2 linked regions of the Homo sapiens genome follow. The protein of the gene in region 1 purifies or fractionates together with the protein of each later gene. This does not show direct contact. Each region holds a gene or a part of one and is shown on either strand. Other genes may lie near its edges.

Region 1 (3,656 bases):
GCCATCAATGGCCTACAGACTTGGTTATTCATTAAAAAAATATTTTTTAATCAGTAGATTTGTGTATAAATAAGTACTTGCTAACAGTTTCTGAAATGTTTTCTTAAAGTGGCTCTATTATTTCACCAGAAATTTAGTTTACAAAGCTGGGTGCAGTGGCTCATGCCTGTAATCCCAGCACTTTGGGAGGCTGAGGTGGGTGGATCACTGGAGGTAAGGAGTTCGTGACCACTGTGGCCAACATGGTGAAACCCCATCTCTACTAAAAATATAAAAAAGCCGGGCATGGTGGCACACACCTGTAATCCCAGCTACTCGGGAGGTTGAGGCATGAGAATCACTTGAACTTGGGAGGCACAGGTTGCAGTGAGCCGAGATTGCACAACTGCACTCCAGCCTGGGTGACAGAGCAAGACACCATCTCAAAAAAAAAAAAAAAAAAAAATTTAGTTTACAAATGAAGTCAGTATTAGGTATTTTTCTATGTCCTGAAAGTAGGTCCACATGAAGTGAAGTGCTTTTTTTCTGATGTCCATTCATGTAAAACAATTACATTGTGAGAAAAAACATGATGCAGTACTATTTGCTTTTTTTACCTCAAGTAACAAGTCCCTTCATTTCTACGTATCACAAATCCCACAACATAAACAAAGCTACCTGGATTCTAAATTACTTAAAATATAACATAACATTTTGAGTCAGATGTTGACAACTTCTGGTGGGTGCGCTAAAAGTCTGGTTCTGAATGGCATGGCCAGTGCAAACTAGGCAAATTCTAAAGAACATAAAGTAAACATAATGTAGTAAAGGTACCTTACTATATTACCTATTAGCACTAAATTTTATATATTCTTGCTTTTCCCTGTGTAATCTTTATTTAAAAATTGGCTGCTAATCAGGATAACTCCATGAAAATATTTTTATTTTAGAGATAGGGTCTCACTCTGTCACTCAAGCTGGAGTGCAGTGGCACAATCTTGGCTCACTGCAGCCTCGACCTTAAGTGACCTTCCCACCTCAGCCTCCTGGGCAACTGGGACTACAGGGGCACTACAGGCACGAGCCACCATGCCTGGCTATTTTTTGTAGTTTTTGTATGACGGAGTTTGCCATGTTGCTCAGGCTGGTCTTGAACTCCTGGTCTCAAGCGATCTGCCCACCTTGGCCTCCTAAGTGCTGGGATTACAGGCATGAGCCATCATACCCAGCCAAGCACATTTATATTTTAAATTGAGGCTTCTATACTACTCACAATAGCTATGATATGGAATCAACAGATTAATGAATAAAGAAAATGTGGTATATATACACAGTGGAACACTATTCGGCCATAAAAAAAGAATGAAAGCCTGTCGTTCAAGGCAACATGGATGAGCCCGGAGGACCTTATGTTAAGCAAAATAAATCAGACACAGAAAGAAAAATATAACATGTTCCCACTCATATATGAAAACTAAAAAAAAAATGAACTCATGGAAGTAGAGAGTAGAACTGCAGGTATTAGTGGCTGGGAAGGATTGGGAGGAGGGGAAAACAGAGAGGTTGGTGTAGAAAAAGTTTTTGATGGAATGATAATGATAGTGACATTTTTCGACAGAGAGCTGTTACATGCAAGGCCTGTACCCTTCGCAACAGCCTGAGCTGTAAATGAGAAAAGAAAACCCATCTCACACAATATTCTATTCACTTAGCTGCTAAGGGCCTAGCATCCATACTAACTGACTTGACTGACTGACCTCAAACTAAACCAAGGTGAGAAGGTATTAGGAGTTGAAGAGGGGTGGTGGACTTGAAAATCTTCCTGCCATTCCTCTTGTAATGGATTGCTAGTCCCCAGTCTAGACATAAGACTTTTACTTGCAGGGCAGACTAGTTAAAAACTGTGCTATGACCTTTCCTCTAAGCCCATGAGAGTAGATGAGGTATTTTTAAGCACTCATGAATAATGTGCAAAATGTTTTGAAAATAGGTAATGTTCAAGATTCTTAAAAATAAAGCAAGACATTAACATTAATTGTCTACCTGTAAAGATCAGACTCCAAAAGTGTCAGCTGACGTGCAATTTCTATTGGATGAAGTGTCATGAGATCAAATGTTTCAAACTGTCCTGGTTTGCTGATATGCCATTCAATTGGTGGAGGTGGACTTTCAAAGGTAATATTATGGCTTACTCCGTTTGCCTGAGCTTGCTTCTTCCTCCTGATGATCTTAGCAATTGACTCTACCCATTTTTTCATAGCTTTCCCTGGAAAAAGAACACATAAAGAAAAATGTCTTTTACTTGACAGACATGACTGCAAATCTTCATTTAATCCTTAACTTTCACCCAGCCTCAACAGTTACCAACTCATGGCCAATTTTTATTTTCTCTAACCCTACTCATGCCATCCCGTCACTTCCTAGGTTATTCTGAAACAAATCCGAGACATCGTATTTCATTCATATTTAAGCACCTTTAAAACACTCTTTAAAGTAATAACCACAACACCATTATCACACATAAAACTGACAACTTCTTAATACATTGTTATCTTGAAGTATTTTGTCACTGTTCACATTTCTCTCTCTGATTATTTTCCTTTTTTTTTTTTTTTGAGACAGGGTCTTGCTCTGTGGCCCAGGTTGGAGTGCAGTGGCGCAATCTCAACTTATTGCAACTTCCATGTTGCGGGCTCAAGTGATCCTCCCACCTCAGCCTCCCAAGTAGCTGGGACTGCACATATCACCACGCCTGGCTAATTTTTGTATTTTTTTTGAAATGGAGTCCCACTTTGTCACCCAGGCTGGAGAATAATGGCGTGATCTCGGCTCACTGCAACCTCCACCTCCCGGGTTCAAGCGATTCTCCTGCCTCAGCCTCCTGAGTAGCTAGGATTATAGGTGCACACTACCATGCTTGGCTAATTTTGTTGTATTTTTAGTACAGACAGGGTTTCACCATGTTGGCCAGGCTGGTCTCGAACTCCTGACCTCGTGATCTGCCTGCCTTGGCCTCTCAAAGTGCTGGGATTACAGGCGTGAGCCACCGCGCCTGGCCTAATTTTTGTATTTTTAGTAGAAATAGGGTTTATCCATGTTGCCCAAGCTGGTCTTGAACTCCTGGGCTCAAGTGATCTGCCTGCCTTGGCCTCCCAAAGTGTTGGGATTACAGGCATGAGCCACTGTGCCTGGCCATATTTTCTTATATTTAGTTTGAAAAGGGATCTGAACAAGATTGCACATATTGCACTGAGTCAATGTGTCTCAAGTCTCCTTTAATCTACAGGTTACTGCTTTATTGCATATTTTTGCTTGCACTTTGTGGAAGAAATTGTCATTTGCCATGTTTTTCTGTCCTCTATATTTTCTGTAAAGCAGAGATATAGTGACTTGGTCTGATTCAGGATTAATTTTATGACACAAATACTTGCCAAGAATACTTCTAACAGGAGGCATATAATGTCTAGTTAACTTTTTGTGATAGTACCCATCCAGTCATGATAATTCCCTAGGTTTATTATTTTACTAGGACCTGAGAAATGTGATATTCTACCATTCCTTCTTCACTTACTAGCTGAAATACTTCCACAAAAATAAACTTTTCCTCATGAACTATTTGGTTATTCTGAAGTATAACTAGTATAGAAAAGAACTTTGGACATTAACATAACCATTTA
Region 2 (3,656 bases), on another chromosome or scaffold:
GTGCCTGTAATCCCAGCTACTCAGGAGGCTGAGGCAAAAGAATTGCTTGAACCCAGGAGGCGGAAGTTGCAGTGAGCTGAGATCACACCATTGCACTCTAGCCTGGGCGACAAGAGAGAAACTCCACCTCAAAAAAAAAAAAAAATTAAAAACTGACCTATGACCAAAATAACTAACTATGTGACATTAAGTCTTGAGTGGGACTACTTTTTAGCAACTCTACACTACCAGCACCCTACTACAAGATACCAACATCTACCACCTAGGTTATTGCAAAAGTCTCCTAACTGGTTTTCCTGCTCCACTTTTGCTCCTTTGCTGTTTTTTCTGAAGACAACAGCCACAATAATTCTGACAAAATGTTAAGTTCAATCATGTTCAATGCTCAGTAACCTCCAATGGGTTCCTCTTATTCCAAGTAAAAGCCAAAGCTTAAAATAACATCTAAGAACCTATACCAGTGGTTCTTAACTAGGGGAGATTTTGCACCCCCTGGGGACATTGGCAATGTCTGAAACATTTTTGGTTGTCACAACTAGGGGGCAGATGCTACTGACATCTGGCATATTATAGAGGCCAAGGAGGCTGCTAAATGTTCCACAATGCACAGGACATCCCCCTACAACAAAAAATTACCCAGTCCAAAATGTAAGAAATTTGAGAAACCCTGCCCTACATGATATGCCCCATCACCTCTTAACTTCATTATCAATTACATACACCCCTGTTCACTCCACTACTACAACACCAGGCCCCTTGATGTCTCTAGAACACAAGGTGTATACCCATTTTAGCAGCTGCTGTTCCCTCTGCCTGGAATGCTCATTCCCCTGAACCTGCACTGTTTACTCCCTCAACTTTTTCAGGTCTTCACTTGTATTGCTTCTGATATATAAGCAAATTATCTTTGATTTTCAATGCTTTCTGGCTCCACCTCACCACTCTAACCTTGTCTTAAGATTGCTCAGCAAAAAATCATCTGTTCTAGTCAAGCCAGCGTTAAGGTCTTGCTCTGTCACCCATGCTGGACTGCAGTGGCACAATCATAGCTCACTGCAGCCTCCACCTCCTGGGCTCAATCGATCCTCCCATCTCAGCCTCTGGAGTAACTGGAACTATAGGGGGGCACCACCACGCCTGGCTAATGTTTTTAAAAAATTTTTTTGTAGAGACAGGGTCTCACTATGTTGCCCAAGCTAGTTTCAATCACCTGGCCTCAAGCAGTGCTCCTACCTCAGGCTCCCAAAGCACTAGGATTATAGGCATGAGCTACCACACCCTTTTCTCTCCCCTTTTCTATATGCTATTTATGTAAAAGGTATTATGAAGCAAGAAGGAAAACATGGAGACACTGGAAATACATTTTCCTTCCAAGAAATAGTGTGGGGAAAATCTGTATCTTGCCATGTTTTCCAATGCCTTCTACTTCATTTCACTTCCTAGAAAATACAGTGCTAACAATAAAATATATTTTTGGCTTTTTGGTACCTACACACTGTTTATTTCTTAAAGCCCGTAAGTCTTCTTCTAAATGGCTTCATGGCTTGCATACTCACTCATCTTAAATCTATGCTCAAATGTCATCTTTTTGGTGAGTCTTTCCCCAGAGACTCTAAAATTGCAACACATACAAGCACACACACACATTTATCCTCCTTCTCTATGTTACTCTCCCTCGCAATGATCATCATCTAACATACAATAAATATTACTCCCTTTTTCCCCTGTGGACTAAATTATGACATATATATTATTTCTTATCTTGTTTACTATTTCATCCCACTAGACGGAAAGCCTCACAAAGGCAGGAATATTTGTCCATTTTGTTCACTGCTATATTCCCACCTCCTAGAACGATATCTGATGCCCAGCAGGCACTAAATAAATATTTGCTGAACAAAGTCAAATTGAATCCCTGAAATTAAGTTCCTCATTTGTAAAATATAGATAATCTAGACCTAGAAGTACTGTCAAGCATTGGTCTTTAATCAGAGGTGCCTTCCAAAATCATTCAGAGTAGTTTTGCACAACATACACAGCCAAAGACCACTTGCCCTGAAATTAAGATTCAAGAGGTATAGGCTATGTGTGAAAAGAGAGACTTTGAAAAAGCTCCCCAAGAGATTCCAACAATCACCCTCAGATGAGAACCAGTTATAACTAAAATTAAGAGAAAAAATAAAAGTCATATTAGATCTTTTTGCAACACTGTATACTAATTAATAAATAAACATCTGGCCCTGCATGAGTCTGCATTTCAAGTCCTATGTTTAGACATTAAATCCAACTATCCAGTAAATCCTAGATGGCCTTTTATCATTACAAACTCTCTCCCTCTCCCCCTCCCTCTTCCCCTCCCCCTCTCCCTTGTAAAAGCACTAGTCATACATTCCAGTTTAAAATCCTGGATTCATTTTTATTCAACCCTCTCAATTTTCTACCCATTACTAGTCAGCCTGCAAGTTCTGCTAATTTGCTCTTTATTTTTAAGATTACTACTACTATCACCTCCCAAGTTCAAGGCCTTAAAATCTTTATATCAAAACTTATGAAATGGCTTTCTCGTTAATTTTCCAGTTTTCAATATAACTTACATGTGGATGCAAATTAAACTTCCTTTGGTAATTTTCAATTTCCAGCTCACAAATACATTCTTCAGTACTAACTCCCTATATGTTAAGCCTTTTTAGCCCACATGAAATCCAAAGTTTATCTTAATCTTTAAAGATAATGAAATAAAAATTAACTGTTCAGTAATTATTCCCATAAATGGCATAGTCTTTAGTATACATTTGCTTCAGTTTTACTTTGTGAATATATTCTATTCTGTACGAAAGTTGGATTTTACATTTCTCTGGCAATCATGATATTTAATGCCTCAAGTCCTTCATATGTTTTTTAACCTGCATTAATTGTTCTGTGTTCTTTTTTTGTATTATTATCTTGTGTGGCAGGGCCCTAACTCTAATAACTATCAAAATGACATCCAATTGTATTCTACATACCTCTCATGATTCTATCTAGTTCTATAGTCACAAGTCTAATGTCATGCTCATGTCAATAAACAATCAAGCTTCTTCATGTGCTCCTCTAGACAGCTCTTTATATACTAACACATTTGGACACACTGAAGAAAATGACCTCAAAAACAAGGTCAAAATGCATTACAATACAAGCTATATAGAACCAAGCCAATAATCCACTTAGTCTACATTACTCAATACCAAAGCCTCTAATTCAACCAAAATAACTCAGCCAGTGTCTTGTGATTCATCACTCAGAATGTAGTTAGGCCCTTTGGAACACATTAAAATAATCATAATTCAAACAAAATGGACCAAAAAAAAAATCAAACTAATGTGAATAACCCCTAACATTTTCTGATAGCACATTCCCCAATTCAAATACTATATATAGTAAGACAATATTAACACATAAATGATATATCAAGAACCAAAACAAGGACTGAAATAGGTAGAACTGGCCTTTTACATTGATACTATATTTTTATGCGCATGAAGAGAAAAGCTGAAAGAGGATACTTACCATTAAAGCCCTGATAAGTATTCCTGCAGGCGGAGTGTGTGTAATCTATGAAGACACATTTAACAAAAAGGAATTAGTGTGATATTAGCAATAATTCAAAATTATATGCC

Evidence for each region.
Region 2: the proteins of SOS2 (region 1) and ZNF326 purify together in Homo sapiens (affinity purification with mass spectrometry, with the first as the bait; one large-scale study listed by BioGRID). This does not show direct contact.

What each region holds. Positions count from the first base shown.
Region 1 is NC_000014.9:50,147,986-50,151,641, forward strand, and holds part of SOS2 (son of sevenless homolog 2), read right to left. Parts: intron 2,246-3,656; coding exon 2,023-2,245; intron 1-2,022.
Region 2 is NC_000001.11:89,998,045-90,001,700, reverse strand, and holds part of ZNF326 (DBIRD complex subunit ZNF326), read right to left. Parts: intron 3,592-3,656; coding exon 3,547-3,591; intron 1-3,546. UniProt on the Homo sapiens protein: Core component of the DBIRD complex, a multiprotein complex that acts at the interface between core mRNP particles and RNA polymerase II (RNAPII) and integrates transcript elongation with the regulation of alternative splicing: the DBIRD complex affects local transcript elongation rates and alternative splicing of a large set of exons embedded in (A + T)-rich DNA regions.